Linked DNA regions of Homo sapiens. The protein of the gene in region 2 interacts with the protein of the main gene of each other region in a pairwise test. Each region holds a gene or a part of one and is shown on either strand. Other genes may lie near its edges.

Region 1 (6,900 bases), on a different chromosome or scaffold from region 2:
CTCTACTAAAAATACAAAAATTAGCTGGGCATGGTTGTGCACGCCTGTAGTCCCAGCTACTCAGGAGGCTGAGGCAGGAGAATTGCTTGAACCTGGGAGGCAGAGGTTGCAATGAGCTGAGATCGCACCACTGCACTCCAGTCTAGTGACAGAGCAAAACTCTGTCACAAAAAAAAAAAAGAATTTTTTTTGCCAAATATGGAATTATTGGCTGTAATTTTTTTTAATTGATCACATTAAATGTATCACTTACTATATCCTCCAAAGACTCTCGTAAGAAATCTGTGGATCACCTTGTTCAGGATCCCTTGTACCCCATGATTCTTGTTTCTCTTCCTACTTTTTGTTTTGTTTTGTTTTGTTTTTTATTTATTTATTTATTTATTTTTAATTTTATTATTATTATACTTTAAGTTTTAGGGTACATGTGCACAATGTGCAGGTTTGTTACATATGTATACATGTGCCATGTTGGTGTGCTGCACCCATTAACTCGTCATTTAGCATTAGGTATATCTCCTAATGCTATCCCTCCCCCCTCCCCCCACACCACAACAGGCCCCGGTGTGTGATGTTCCCCTTCCTGTGTCCATGTGTTCTCATTGTTCAATTCCCACTATGAGTGAGAACATGTGGTGTTTGGTTTTTTTTGTCCTTGCGATAGTTTGCTGAAAATGATGGTTTCCAGTTTCATCCATGTCCCTACAAAGGACGTGAACTCATCATTTTTTATGACTGCATAGTATTCCATGGTGTATATGTGCCACATTTTCTTAATCCAGTCTATCGTTGTTGGTCTTTTAGGTTGGTTCCAAGTCTTTGCTATTGTGAATAGTGCTGCAATAAACATACGTGTGCATGTGTCTTTATAGCAGCATGATTTATAATCCTTTGGGTATATACCCAGTAATGGGATGGCTGGGTCAAATGGTATTTCTAGTTCAAGATCCCTGAGGAATCACCACACTGACTTCCACAATGGTTGAACTAGTTAACAGTCCCACCAACAGTGTAAAAGTGTTCCTATTTCTCCACATCCTCTCCAGCACCTGTTGTTTCTTGACTTTTTAATGATCGCCATTCTAACTGGTGTGAGATATTTTTTTTTGGGAGGGGGGATTGAGTTTTGCTCTTGTTGCCCAAGCTGGAGTGCAATGGTGCAATCTCGACTCACTGCAACCTCCACCTCCTGGGTTCAAGCTATTTTCCGGGATTAGCCTCCTGAGTAGCTGGAATTACAGGTGTGCACCCCCATGCCTGGCTAATTTTTTGTATTTTTAGTAGAAATAGGGTTTCACCATGTTAGCCAGGCTGGTCTCGAACTCCTGACCTCAGGTGATCCGCCTGCCTCGGCTCCCAAAATCTCTTGCTATTTAAAGATTATCTCTTTGTCTGGCTTTTAGAGTTGGATGATAACACATACAGATCTGGGTCTCTTAGAGTTTATACTATTTGCAGTTCTTTAAGTGGCCTGAATTTGTAGATTGTTGTCTTTAACCAATTTGAAAAAGTTTTGATGTTTTTATTCTCCAAATAATCTGTCTACCACCATGGGTTTGCACTTCTCCTTCTGGGAATCCAATACTATCATACTGGTCGGCTTGAAGCTGTCCCATAAGTCCCTTAGGACCGGTTCACATTTCTTTATTCTTGTTTCGTGTCCTTAGACTCAGGAACTTCAAATGCGCTATCCCTATGTGTATTGATTATATCTTCATCCTGCTCAAAGTTGCTATTGAAACACCCTCTGGTGAGTTCTTCATTCAGGTACTTTTTTTGCTCCAATTTTTTCCTTTTTTATAATTTCTATATTACTACTGTATCGTGATTTTCTTATTGTTTTCAGATTTTCTGTAGTTCTTAGTCCATATTTTTCATTAGCAATTTTAGCATATTTAAGCAGCTGTTTAAATGCTTCTCTACTAATTTTAATGCCTGTGATTCTTCAGGAAAGATTTCTACTAATTTATTTTCTTTCTCATAATGAACTGTGATTTCTTGTTTCCTTGTATGCCTTGTCATTTTATTTTATTTTTTTGAGCCAGAGTCCTGCTCTGTCGCCAGGCTGGAGTACAGTGGTGCCATCTCGGCTCACTGCAACCTCTGCCTCCTGGGTTCAAGCGATTCCCCTGCTTTAGCCTCCCGAGCAGCTGGGACTACAGGCGTCCGCCACCACGTCCGACTATTTGTTGTTGTTGTTGTTGTTGTTGTTCTTGTTGTTGTTGTTCTTATTTTAGTAGAGACAGGATTTCACCATGTTGACCAGGATGGTCTCCATCTCCTGCCCTCGTGATCTGGCCGCCTCGGCCTCCCAAAGTGCTGGGATTACCACTGCTCCAGGCCTGTATGCCTTGTTATTTTATCTAATTGGGCATTTGAAAAAATAAACATCTTTTTTACTGTATATAGATTTGTTCTATGTCATGACAGTCATTAACTTATATGTGTGGCAGGTTCTCAGTCAAGGCATCAGCCCTACATAAAACCTCAAGTCCTTCTTAGTTTGTTTCTGAACATGCACCTACGTGGACTGTGTTTGCCCTTTTATGTATCCCCAAATAACCAATGGCTTTTGAATTGCTTACTATTATGAAATTTCGCATCCCAGTTTCTCCTCAATGGCTTAGATGGACTATTGCATGTCTCTTCCCCTGGCCTTTTGCCTATAACATCTGTATGTGTATAGTCACCCTGAATCTCTACTGAGCCACTCCAGAAATAAATAAGTTTATTTCAGTCAATTTTAGGTATTTTCTGATGTTTCCATGAGTTATATGGGAATCTTAGAATCCACCATCTTGTTGAAATTACTCTGTGAAAAATTTCAATATCTTTATAATATTACATTTATGTCAATGATAACAATTTACCTATTTTTCAATTTCTGTTTGTTTTATGAAAAAGCAAATAGAAGCAATCAGGGCACTGCAAGTTGTGACTACTCCAAGATGTGAATCATGGATCATGCAAATTACAATCATGTTTTAACCTGACCTCCAAAGGGAGAATAAAGTAAAAATTATCCCATGCGAGGATTATTCACCAGTTTATATGTCATTAGTTACCAGTTTTTCTTTATGAATAATGTTTAGCAATATTATAAAGTATATCTAATAGTTATCATATTTTGGCTTGTTACTTTTTGGTAGCAATTCATAAAAATGGCTGGAAAAGACAAATAAGGCACTGTTTGCATGTTACAAATTATATCCAAAGTCCAAAAGCTGTTAATAAGAAATCTTCCAATAAAACCACATCATATTTTCTTTTTTATTTACACCCACATCAGGATTACAACTTTATCAGGACTGCACCTTGATCAGGAAGGGATGTTTCTCTTACAAGGCTAATAAGAAAGGAACAATAAATTTGCTGATGAAAAAAGTAATGCATTAAAAAATTTTAACTTTAATTTTTAATTGAGGGCAATATTTTAAAGAAATGCTCATTAGTCATTCCTTTAAATTGTGTGTGTGAGAGAGAGAAAAATGAAAATTAGTCATTTCAAATGCTGCAAGATGCAGAAGGAACTCATCATCATGACACAAACAAAAAAGAGCTGTGCCGCTAGAGGTTTCTGTATTCTTATGTAAAGTCACAATTTGTTCTACAAATCTCTTTGAGTAATTTATGTCTCATATATAGAGATCTGGAATAGCAAAAATACTTCAGAGGAAATTAATGAGTGTATCATGACCACATAATAATTTACTTATGAATTTTCTTAGGTAAGAAACGGTTGAACTGGATGCAATTTTTATCACAGCTTGTGTAAGACTGCCTCTGTCCCTCCTCTCACATGCCATTGGTTAACCAGCAGACAGTGTGCTCAGGGGCGTTGCCAGCTCATTGCTCTTATAGCCTGTGAGGGAGGAAGAAAGAAACATTTGCCAGCCAGGCTAGTGACAGAAATGGATTCGAAATATCAGTGTGTGAAGCTGAATGATGGTCACTTCATGCCTGTCCTGGGATTTGGCACCTATGCGCCTGCAGAGGTAACAATAATATTTTTAGTGTTGAGAGTTCAAAGGAGCTAGAGTAAGTGGAAGCTGACCAGGTTGTCAGGCTTGTGTTCCTATGTTACTCTGCATGACTCCCCTTTAAACGTCAGTCTTTGTTCTGCAATGCCATCTTGTCACAGGGTCATCTACTGCTTATTTGTGGCACTGTTTTGTCTTCTGTTTATGTTTATTTCACAGCTTGTCAGAGTCTATACAACTCAGCAGAAAGAACACGGCTTGCCTGCTCCCTCTCTTGAAGATTGATTGCAATGGGAGTGGTTTCTCTGTTTCTTTGTATAGTCGAACAGATATTTACTTCTTCCAAGAAGATACAATTCAGAGGAATTTTTATGGCAAAAGTTAGTGGAGACGGGGTGGATGAAATCTGTTGGGAGAGTATCACTGTTCTGATGGGCGGCCTTGAGCACCACACTGTAATACTAGACCTGGCCTAAAGAGAATTTCTCATGTACTATTCTCACCTCTGGGAAAATTACCTGAAACGATAAAATATCCTCATTTTAAGAAAAAAAAAATACTAGAACCTAACAAGGAAAATTTAAATTCTTTTTCTTTGTTAATATGGGTCAAATTTGTATCAAAATATTGTAACAGAAAAATTTCTTGTTTCTCTGACAGGAAAATTAATGGAATAGATTTTCTTTTCTAGACTTAGCTATTTCTACACTGGAAGAAAACTTGTATCTCAAGACTGTCTTGGGAATACAATGTGTGTGAATAGGGACTAGTTACATAAAATTTGGGTTTCACATTTCTGATCTATACAATATAAGGATTTACAAAGGGACATTTTGAAGACCATTGACAGGAGTGGTTTACTTTGTAATATAAATTGACATGGAGAGGAAGTAAAGATGAGGATACCACTAAAGCTCCAGCTTTGGTAAGCCTTTGAGTACTCATACAGCAAAGAAATGATCAAGGATGGTATGAGGAGAGGGCTGTGAGACCCAGTATCTAGTTCCTTGTAATTCTATGGGAAAAAGAAAGCCTCTGAAATACTTTCCAGATAGGAAAACAGTTTGCTTTGTTTCTGTTTTTGTCATTTAAAAGATATACTTTCAAATCTGTATCCAAATTTGTTACGTAAGTCAATAATTGTAAATTTCACTGCAATCATATGTTTCCTAAAAGAGTTGCCTTGAACTTATGGAACTGAACCCCATTTTGCTAATCACTTACTCCTTGCAGTCTATTTCTTATACAAATCAATATCCTTAGAGTATACATTTTTACACCTACTATTTAGTTCTGTCATGCCGACAGAATGGCTAATGGCTGTGTAGAAAAGACTTGACATAATAGACTGCTATCCATAGACAGGCCTGTTTCCCATATAAACCTGCTGGTATCTGATAAGGTGGATTTCTCACTATTTCCTAACTGATAAGAATGGTGGCTGTAAGTAACTGCTTGTGCAAACTGCGGAGTTTCTGTGCACCTGCTTTCCTTTTGGAGACTTTTGGAAGTTTTGTGCCTGCGAAGCAGAGTGAGTCAATGTAACCAGTCCCAGACAAAATCTTAGTAATGGAGTATGTAGAGAGCATCTCTTGTAGACAACAGTTCACATACATTGACAAAATATGATTCCGGGTAAAGTCAGTGCATTCTGTGCAATATGGTGGGAGAGGAATCACAGGAGCTTACACTGTATTCCTTCATATTTCCTTCCATGTGGCTATTTCCTCGTGTTAATTTCTTTTTTTGTTTGTTTGGTTTTTGTTTTGTTTTTCTGAGATGGAGTCTCGCTTTGTCGTCCAGGCTGGAGTGCAGTGGTGCGACCTCAGCTCACTGCAAGCTCCGCCTCCTGGGTTCACGTCATTCTCCTGCCCCAGCCTCCCCAGTAGCTGGGACTACAGGCGCCTGCCACCATGCCCGGCTAATTTTTTCTATTTTTAGTAGAGATGGAGTTGTTAACCAGGATGGCCTTGATCTCCTGATCTCATGATCCGCCCAGCTCGGCCTCCCAAAGTGCTGGGATTACAGGTGTGAGCCGCCACGCCTGGCCATTCCTTGTGTTAATTTTACCATACTAAAAATAATTAAGATTATATCTATAACTATAGGTTGCATCCTGTTAATTTTTCCAAAAAATGACTGAACCTGAAATTGTTTTGGGGACACTTCCAAACTAGTGGTCAAGCAGTGATTTTTCTGGGACTGCAGAAGTTCCTGCTGTGCCCAACCTTTATTACTAACTGGGAAAGACCCAGGGAGACTGGGATGGGCTCATGATTCTACATACAGAACTCATCCAAGAAAGGAGGAAAAGCTGATTTTTGTGAACGTCGCTACTTGTGCCTGAACTAACTCTCAGGCACATTAGTCAGAAAATACTACCTATGGTTACTCCCCCAGGTTCCTAAAAGTAAAGCTTTAGAGGCCACCAAATTGGCAATTGAAGCTGGCTTCCGCCATATTGATTCTGCTCATTTATACAATAATGAGGAGCAGGTTGGACTGGCCATCCGAAGCAAGATTGCAGATGGCAGTGTGAAGAGAGAAGACATATTCTACACTTCAAAGGTACTGTGCCTATGATGAGCTTGTGTGCACATGTATTTATTGTGATTGTGTGGAGGTGGCAGTTCTATGACTGGATCCATAGTATAGGGTGAATTGTGCTTATTTATTACGATTTATTCACACTTACTCATGTATTAAAACTAATATCAAAGGCAGGAAGTGAAGATGGCTTTCTCATCTTTGCAGTGTTCCAATTCATGCCTTCAAAGTGCCTTTACTTTTTGAGCTCAGCACAGATCAATATGGTTTAACATAGACTATAGAATCAGAAAAAATCCTAATCATATTATATTATTTCTTACCTCCTGGGTGAGTTTCTTACACTTGTTATGATTCTCAGTTTCCATTATTA
Region 2 (7,674 bases):
CCACATGGGGGAATAGCCAAGATTCCCACCTCGGGTTGCTAAGCAAGATAGTGGGACCCAGGGATCAGGCAGATAACAAGCGAGATGGGCCTTGGCAGGGCCATGGCTGGCACTCAGAGGAGAGTGTAGTTCCAGTGGAGCTGAAGGAACAGGACCGGCAGTGGACAGTAGCCAGACCCCTCTCTCTCCTGGCCTTCTCTGGACCCCCACCCCCACCCCTACCCTGGACTTGCTGGGGAGGGTGAAGGGAGGCCCTGGGCAGGGGCCCATCATTGATCAGGGAGCCGGGGCCAGCAGGACTCAGCCTCCCGCATTTCACCCTAGGACAAAGGGCAAGAGAGGCCCCTCTGGATGCTGGTTCCAGGAAGGTACCTCACGCAGGTGCGGCCTTCGTGGGGGCTGAGCTGGCACTTGGACATGGCAGATGGCTTATAGCCAATCGCCCCACCCACGATGTGGGGCAGCTAAGCCTGGTGGAGCCAGGGTGGCAAACCCGTGTGCAGGGCCATCTGTTACCCGCACAGCACGCAGGCTCTCCGCCCCTGGGGAGGGAACCCCCAGGGTGGTTGCCCTGCACCTGCCCTCCACCACGGCAGAGAGAGGGAGAGGAGATGACCCTTGTGGGGGGCAGAGTGGGGGAGGTGGGGTGTGGCACCGAGGCCTGACGTCTAGGGCTGGGACCGCCTGCCGTCTGTGTAGGGGATGCCACAAATGACAAGACTCTGGGGGGCCGATTTGCAAAAACAGCCCAAAAGTCGGCCCGGCTTTCCACACCTATGCGTTTCCACTTCTCTCAAGAATAGTTACTAAATCAGTTCCCTCTATGCGATGCCATCATTTTGAACACCTTTTTGAAACAATTGCTTTTATGTTTTACATAAAGGGGACAGAAGAGGACAGCCCCTGGCCATGGCTGCCCTAAGTGTGAAGCCTCTGCTCTGAGGCCTTGGAACAGGTGTGTGTGTGTGGCTTCCTGGGGTCCTTGTGCCTCCATCTCCAGCCCAGAAAGGACAGGGAGGCCCTGAGACCCCCTGCCTTATGGGGCTGGGCCCAGACCACGATGCCACTGGGGCCTTACCTGCTTCCTGCAGGGGCTTGAAACACCAAGGCACTCCAGGGATCCTGGAGTCAAAGCAGCAGCCCCGGTTGTTGCACTCCTTGGGGGTGACATGGGGGTAGCCGCAGTCCACCCTGTCCTTGGCTGGCACGGCACACTGGTTTGCAGCTGTCCCAGACAAAGCCCTGTCAGCTGCCAGAGCCCTTGCTGGGCTGCGGTGAGTGTGTTTGCTTCACTTTGCAAGTTTGCATCCTCCCGCTCCGCCCCACCCCGCCGAGTTCAACCACTGCTGAAACCCTCGCCCTTAGGAAGATGCACTTTCCCTGTGAATATTTAAAGAGAGGCAGTCTGTTAAATGCTCAGCTCGGGGACTCTGGCCATTTGCCTAAGTGTCTTTCTCCTTGGCACGCTCTTATCACCTTCTCGGGAAGTCACATACGGACCTGGGTACCTTCCAGCTGGCAGGAACCCCTGGGGAATCTGGGGTCCCTTGAACCCAGAAACAAAGTTACCCTTCATTGTTTGACCAACAAAACCTTGCCCCTTTGTTTTAAATGAAAACCGTGACAGGAGAGGCACACGCCATAGAGATCATTGCAACGCATGCTGCCTGCTTTTCACTTTTTTCTGCATCTCCCCTTCCTGAATTGTTGAGCATGTCCCACCCTCCCGGGACATCCTTCAGTCCCCAATATTTTCATGTTTCAGGCAAGCCTCTATGTCTGTATGTGCAGCAGAAGTTCACTGCGTTTCATTAACGAACTGAGTATTTCCTTAGGAAAATGGCAATCACGTGCAGTGTCTTACATTCCCTTCTCTTGCTCCCAGTCCGTAATTGCTTATCCTCCTGGCATCCAAACTTCGCTCACACTGGAATCAGCTGCAGAGCTTTAAAAATGACTGACGTTGGCTGGGCATGGTGGCTTACACCTGTAATTCCAGCACTTTGGGAGGCCAAGGCAGGAGGATCACTTGAGGCCAGGAGTTTGAGACCAGCTTGGCCAACATAGCGAAACTCCATCTCTACTAAAAATCCAAAAAATTAGCTGGGCATGGTGGTGCATGCCTGTAATCCCAGCTACTTGAAGCCGAGGCACAAGAATTGCTTGAACCCAGGAGGCGGAGGTTGCAGTGAGCTGAGATTGTGCCACTGCACTCCAGCAGTGAGTGACAAAGCAAGGCTATCTCAAAACAAAACAGCTGAGGCCTGGATCTTGCCTGGAGATGCCCTGATGTAACTGGTGTGCCCCAAGCATTAGGATTTTTAAAGCTCTCCAGGTGATTCTAATGGGCTGCAAGTTCGGGAACCACTGCCTTTGACCCTGCTCAGAAGACACCCAGATAAAAGCCATGCCCTCATTCCTTCAAACTTGGGTTAATGGAGCAGCCACACCCCATGGCAGGGTTGCTATGCAATGGCTAAATGAACCTTGTGCCTGCCGGTATTGACAGTGTTCTGAAGTCAGGGTTTTTCTCCTGCATCTTTCCTTTTTCTTTGTAAATGTGGAACAATGCATAAAGACCTATATTGTAATTTAGAAATCTCCAGCAAAGATGGCTATGGGGTCATAGGGGATGGGCTCAGGCTCAAACCCTGATTTCAACACAGACTGGGCAGGGCTGCCTTGGATAAGTTGTTAACTTTCTCTGAGCCTCGGTTTCCTTGTCTGTGAAATGGGGACAATAAAGACCCACTTCAAAGGGCTAGCGCAGGAAAAAGTGTATATGTGACAGGTGGCCATTATTAAATGAATGCAGAATCCCCCCTTATCCTGGATCCCTTCCCTTCACGCCCACCCTGCCACCGGGGCAGTCAGGGCAGTACTCACACAGGCCCACGTACTCCTCAGCAGAGCTGGAGGACAGCAAGGCCAGGACCAGCCCCAGCATGCAGAGCGCTCTGGCAGCCATGACCACCGTGGGCTCCGGGACGCAGCTCAGGACTCGCTTCATGGTCCAGGAGGCCTCATTTATGCACCGTTGTTTGCACAGCTGCTCTGGATTGTTTGCTTGGGGAAGGCTCTCCCTCCTGGCTGTGGCTGCTCCTGTTCTCTCCTGCATGCCTTTGTCAAGCTCCCAGACAGTTTTTCTCTCCCAAAGGGGAGAGGTCAGTTCAGCCCCCACTGTTTTGGCAGCAAGCGGTAAGGGCGGATTCCAGTTCTGGTTCCGGGTCCTCTACTGGGGAGCGGATGTGTGTCAATTGCCCTCCTAGCCTGGCCTGGTGTAGTGTGCAGGAGCCATGTGGGGTGGCAGGACCAGGGTGTGGTGTCCGTTCCATCTCAGCCTCCCAGCCAGAAGCCCTCAGAACACCCCTGGTCCCATGACAAGAGAGCCCCAGGCTGCTTCATCCCAGATCGGCCTCGGAGACAGGCAGCTCTGAGTGAGTCAGGACCCTGCGGCTCTCTCACAACTCCTGAAACACAGAGATTCCTTGTCTTTCCTTTTTGCTTTCTCCCCTAAAAATTAGTAACTACATTTTAATAAGTGGATGAAATGAATTGATTGAAAATATGTTAGTAAAAACATGGTACACATAATTGATTTTTAAAATCAAATAATACAAAAGAGCCTTTCCTATCCAGAGGCATCTATTGATCTATTGTGAACACTTTTTTAGGTATCCTTTCAGAATTTTTCTCTCTGGATCTAAGCACGTTTTTTTGGTTTGTTTTTGTTTGTTTGTTTGTTTTGTTTTTTTTTTGTTTTTTTTTTGTTTTTTTTTTTTGGAGACAGGGTCTTGCTCTGTTACCCAGGCTGGAGTGCAGTGGCACAATCTCAACTCACTGAGACCCCCGCCCTCGCGGGGCTCAAGTGATCCTCCCACCTCAGCCTCCTAAGTAGCTGGGCCACAGGCATGTGTCCAGCTAATATTTTGTATTTTTTTAGAGACCAGGTGTCGCCATGTTGGCCAGGCTGGTCTCAGACTCCTGGACTCAAGTGATCTGCCTTCCTTGGCCTCCCAAAGTGTCAGGATTACAGGCATGAGCCACTGCACTCGGCCACATTTTTAACACAAACAGGAACTGACTCTCCACCTTTGCCCAGCGTGCTCTTTTAAAAACTAAAGACTACATCTCAGGAATTGTTTTATAACAACATATCAGATGAGACAGCGATGATTCTATCCATTTTCCAGAGGAAGAAACTAAGACTCAACATTTCCGGTGCCTATCAGAGGTTACTCCAGTGTCCCTGGTATAGCTGGTATTTAACCCACTCCCAGGACCCTAAGCCTCCGCCCTCGGCATCCGCAGCATCCCCCAACCCCCCAACCTCCTGCAGTGGACTGGCTGGTAGTGGGCAAGAGACTAATCTCATTCCAGGAAAACGGGCCCCTAGATTTTGTGTTCTCCGTGTTTCTTTTCCAGGGAGGCATTTTGATGACCCCCACTGGCCCTTCCAGGAGCCTCTGTCTGAAGGGTGGACTTGGTTTATCACCCCGAGAAATGGGAGCGCCTGGCTGCTTGGATTTAGCCTGCAGCTGGGGTCCCCGGTGGTGTGTGCAGGGCGGCCTTGAGCCTCCAAGGGTGCATCCACAAACTGCCCTTCCCCGAGTGACCCATGGGAGCTCGATGGCGTACGTGCTGAGCACCAGGATGTGTCCTGCCCTGTGACTCCCAGGCCCCGCCCTTGCGCTCAGCACGCCCTTTGTGGATGGATTTGAGGGCCCCTGGCCTCTGATGTGCCACTCCCGCTGAGGCCAGCGAAGGAGGAAGAAGGAAAGAGCGTTGCCTGCCTTGTTTTCGGGGCACTCACTTTTTCTGGGAGACAGCGGACCCAGGTTCATCAATGGACAGCAGGATTTTCATGTTATTAAAAAGGTCATTGTAGGGGAAATCCCTGGGGGATCTGGTGAGATCTCCCTGGGGGATCTGGTGAGATCTCCCTGCCTTCCCACTGCTCCTAGTACCCAGAGGCCAGGCCAGGTCGTGGTGCAGGGCTGAGTTCCAGGAGGGTGCAAACACCCCAGGAACAGACTGCTGCCCCTCCGGCCCTCATGACCTGCTGGGGAAGGACCCCCGCAAGGAGCTTCTGCAGGTGCTGTGGTCTCCACCTGCTGCACTCAAAATTGCCTGGAGTGGGGAGAATATCAATGCCTGGGCCCCGCCCTGACAGGTGGTTCTGTCGCCTGTGATTCTTCTCTGCGGCCAGCACCGAGAACCCTGCTGGGGTTTGCTTCCGTTTAACTAGTGAATGTTGACTGAGCTCCTACTGCCTACACCCAGGGTTTAGGGCTGGGGAAGGAATAACAAAGGTGACACATTCTTGTCCTTGAAGAGTCCCCCCGCAAAGGGAGACGGGATCATGTCAGAGTTAAGATGGTGAAGCCAAGACTAGGTTCTGTGCTGCCTGACCTTGGGCAAGTCACGTCCCATCTGTACCTCAGTTTCCCTACATGTCACAGGGTGCTCACCCCACAGGACAGCATGAAGTGGTGCTGCACAGCCCAGCCAGGTGCCTGGGACACACACTGACCACCTGCCGGGTGTGCTGGATCAACCATGATGGCAGAGGAGAGGATTCCTGGTCCCGGCTCTGGTAGGAGCAAAGGCTGTGGCAAGGGGGCCAGAGCTGGGTCCTGTCAGGTGGAGACGCACAGGCTTCTCAGAGAAGGGGGATTTGGGCTGCACCTCTGGAGAGGTCAATGGGGAGGCCCGTGTGTGTCCCCTCTCTCTGTTCTAGGAGCCCCCTCCCCAGGAGCCCTGGGCTCTGTACAGGAACAGAGGATGGCATGGGAGAGCCCAACCTGCCTTCCAGAGCCTGCATTCCCACAGCCTTCCCCAGCCACCCTATTCCCCTGGGGGAGTTCCAGTTCCAGAGAAAAAGCAGAGCTGTTGTCAGAGCTGTAGGCCGTGCGGTAGTGGGCATCGGGCCCAACCCAGACAGGTGGCTCCCCTGGGCAACCCAAGACCTGGGGGTGAGCAGGACTGGCTCTAAAGGAGCCTCTCCCTTTCCTCCTTGGGAGCCGCATCCCGCATCCCTGCAGCAGCCTCGTCAGCTGTGTGCGGTGTGGCGGTGTGGGCCGTCCCAGGAGCCCTGCAAATCCCTCCCACCCTGGGCCTTGTGCAGGGGCTCCTGGATGGATCCAAGAAGAAGACAGTCTGCTCCCCCATGCCGGGGCTGCAACCTTTCACCTCCCGGATGCGTGGTCATTGTCACGTGCATATAACAAGCACAAGCTGAGCATGGGTCCCAGGTCAGGCACTCGGCCTGCAGATGTGGGAGCCCCAGAACATCAGGCAGAGCCCGTGCCCTCAGAGCTCACAGGCTGGTGAGGAGGAACAAGCCTTCAAGCATGAATTGTGGTGCAGTATGATTAGAGCTGGCAGAGTGGGGTGAAATCTGACTAGGTCTTGAGGGATGAGTACAAGTTCACCAGATGGGAGGGGTGAAGGTCAGAGGGGCACATTTCATTTTATTTTATCTTATCTTATTTTATTTTATGTTATGTTAAGTTATTTTATTTTATTTTATTTTATTTTGAGACAGGGTTTCTCTCCCATCACCCAGGCTGGAGTACAGTGGTTCAACCTCAGCTCACTACAGCCTACACCTCCCAGGCTTAAACGATCCTCCTCCCTCAGCCTCCCGAGTAGCTGGGATTACAGGTGCATGCCACCACACTTGGCTAATTTTTGTATTTTTAGTAGAGACAGGGTTTCACCATGTTGGCCAAGCTGGTCTCGAACTCCTGACTTCAGGCAACCCATCTCTCTTGGCCTCCCAAAGTGCTAGGATTACAGGTGCACGCCACCATGCCCGGCTAATTTTTGTATTTTTAGTAGAGCTGAGGTTTCACCATGTTGGCCAGGCTGGTCTCAAACTCCTAACCTCAAGTGATTTGCCTGCCTCAGCCTCCCAAAGTGCAGAGGGGCAGGTAAGGCCATAACACTGCCTACTTTGCACTAACTCACTGCCCCACAGAAAACTCAGAGTTGATGTGGCACATGCAGGTTATAGGGTCTGCATCACCGCTCAGTTTTCTGGTATTGTCACTCGATTACTCAAGCAGCAGACAGTCCGAGGGAGGAAGGAAGTAGGAAGTTGTGCTAATCAGCACCCGTGGGTGGCCCAGGGCCGCACACCTCCCAGGAGCACCCTGCTGCCCAGCTGTCTCTCGGTCTGCAGCTGCCATGGGTGCCGCCCCTCACTCTGCACAGAACTTCCTCCTGCCTCCCTGAGAGAGGCTCGAAGACCCTTCCTGAGTCATCACGACCTGAATGTAGGTGCTTTGGGGAGGCAAACGCAGTGACCCATTCAAGGATGCTTCTGTCTTGACACATAGTCCACTGAGGACAAATGGGGGTGGGGACCAGGAGCAGAGCAAATGCCACCACCACGTGTAAAACAGGAAGGTCAGAACGCAGAGCAGCCCAGTGGGCTCGGAAGGGGGCATGGGCTCCAGGGTTCCCTTGTGCAGCTCAAGGAGCACTTGGTGCTGTTTCAGCCACTCGTCTTGAGAAGCAGCCACAGAGCCCTCTAAACCCAGAGCGTCTGTGGGTTTGGGACCGTTGCATCAGCCCCACGTGCAAGGGACAGGAAAGGTTCCCAGAAAGGCATGGACTGACGGCCAGAAATAATGCAGCTGACCGCGGTGGACAGGAGCACCTCACCCG

Evidence for each region. Proteins that work in one complex are often made in the same cells at the same time.
Region 1: the proteins of TFF3 (region 2) and AKR1C1 interact in a two-hybrid assay, tested with the Homo sapiens proteins (one study listed by BioGRID).

The regions. Positions count from the first base shown.
Region 1 is NC_000010.11:4,959,534-4,966,433, forward strand, and holds the start of AKR1C1 (aldo-keto reductase family 1 member C1), read left to right. Parts: upstream 1-3,881; 5' UTR 3,882-3,911; coding exon 3,912-3,995; intron 3,996-6,380; coding exon 6,381-6,548; intron 6,549-6,900. UniProt on the Homo sapiens protein: Cytosolic aldo-keto reductase that catalyzes the NADH and NADPH-dependent reduction of ketosteroids to hydroxysteroids.
Region 2 is NC_000021.9:42,312,407-42,320,080, forward strand, and holds the start of TFF3 (trefoil factor 3 precursor), read right to left. Parts: upstream 3,004-7,674; 5' UTR 2,969-3,003; coding exon 2,887-2,968; intron 1,226-2,886; coding exon 1,079-1,225; intron 1-1,078. UniProt on the Homo sapiens protein: Involved in the maintenance and repair of the intestinal mucosa. Promotes the mobility of epithelial cells in healing processes (motogen).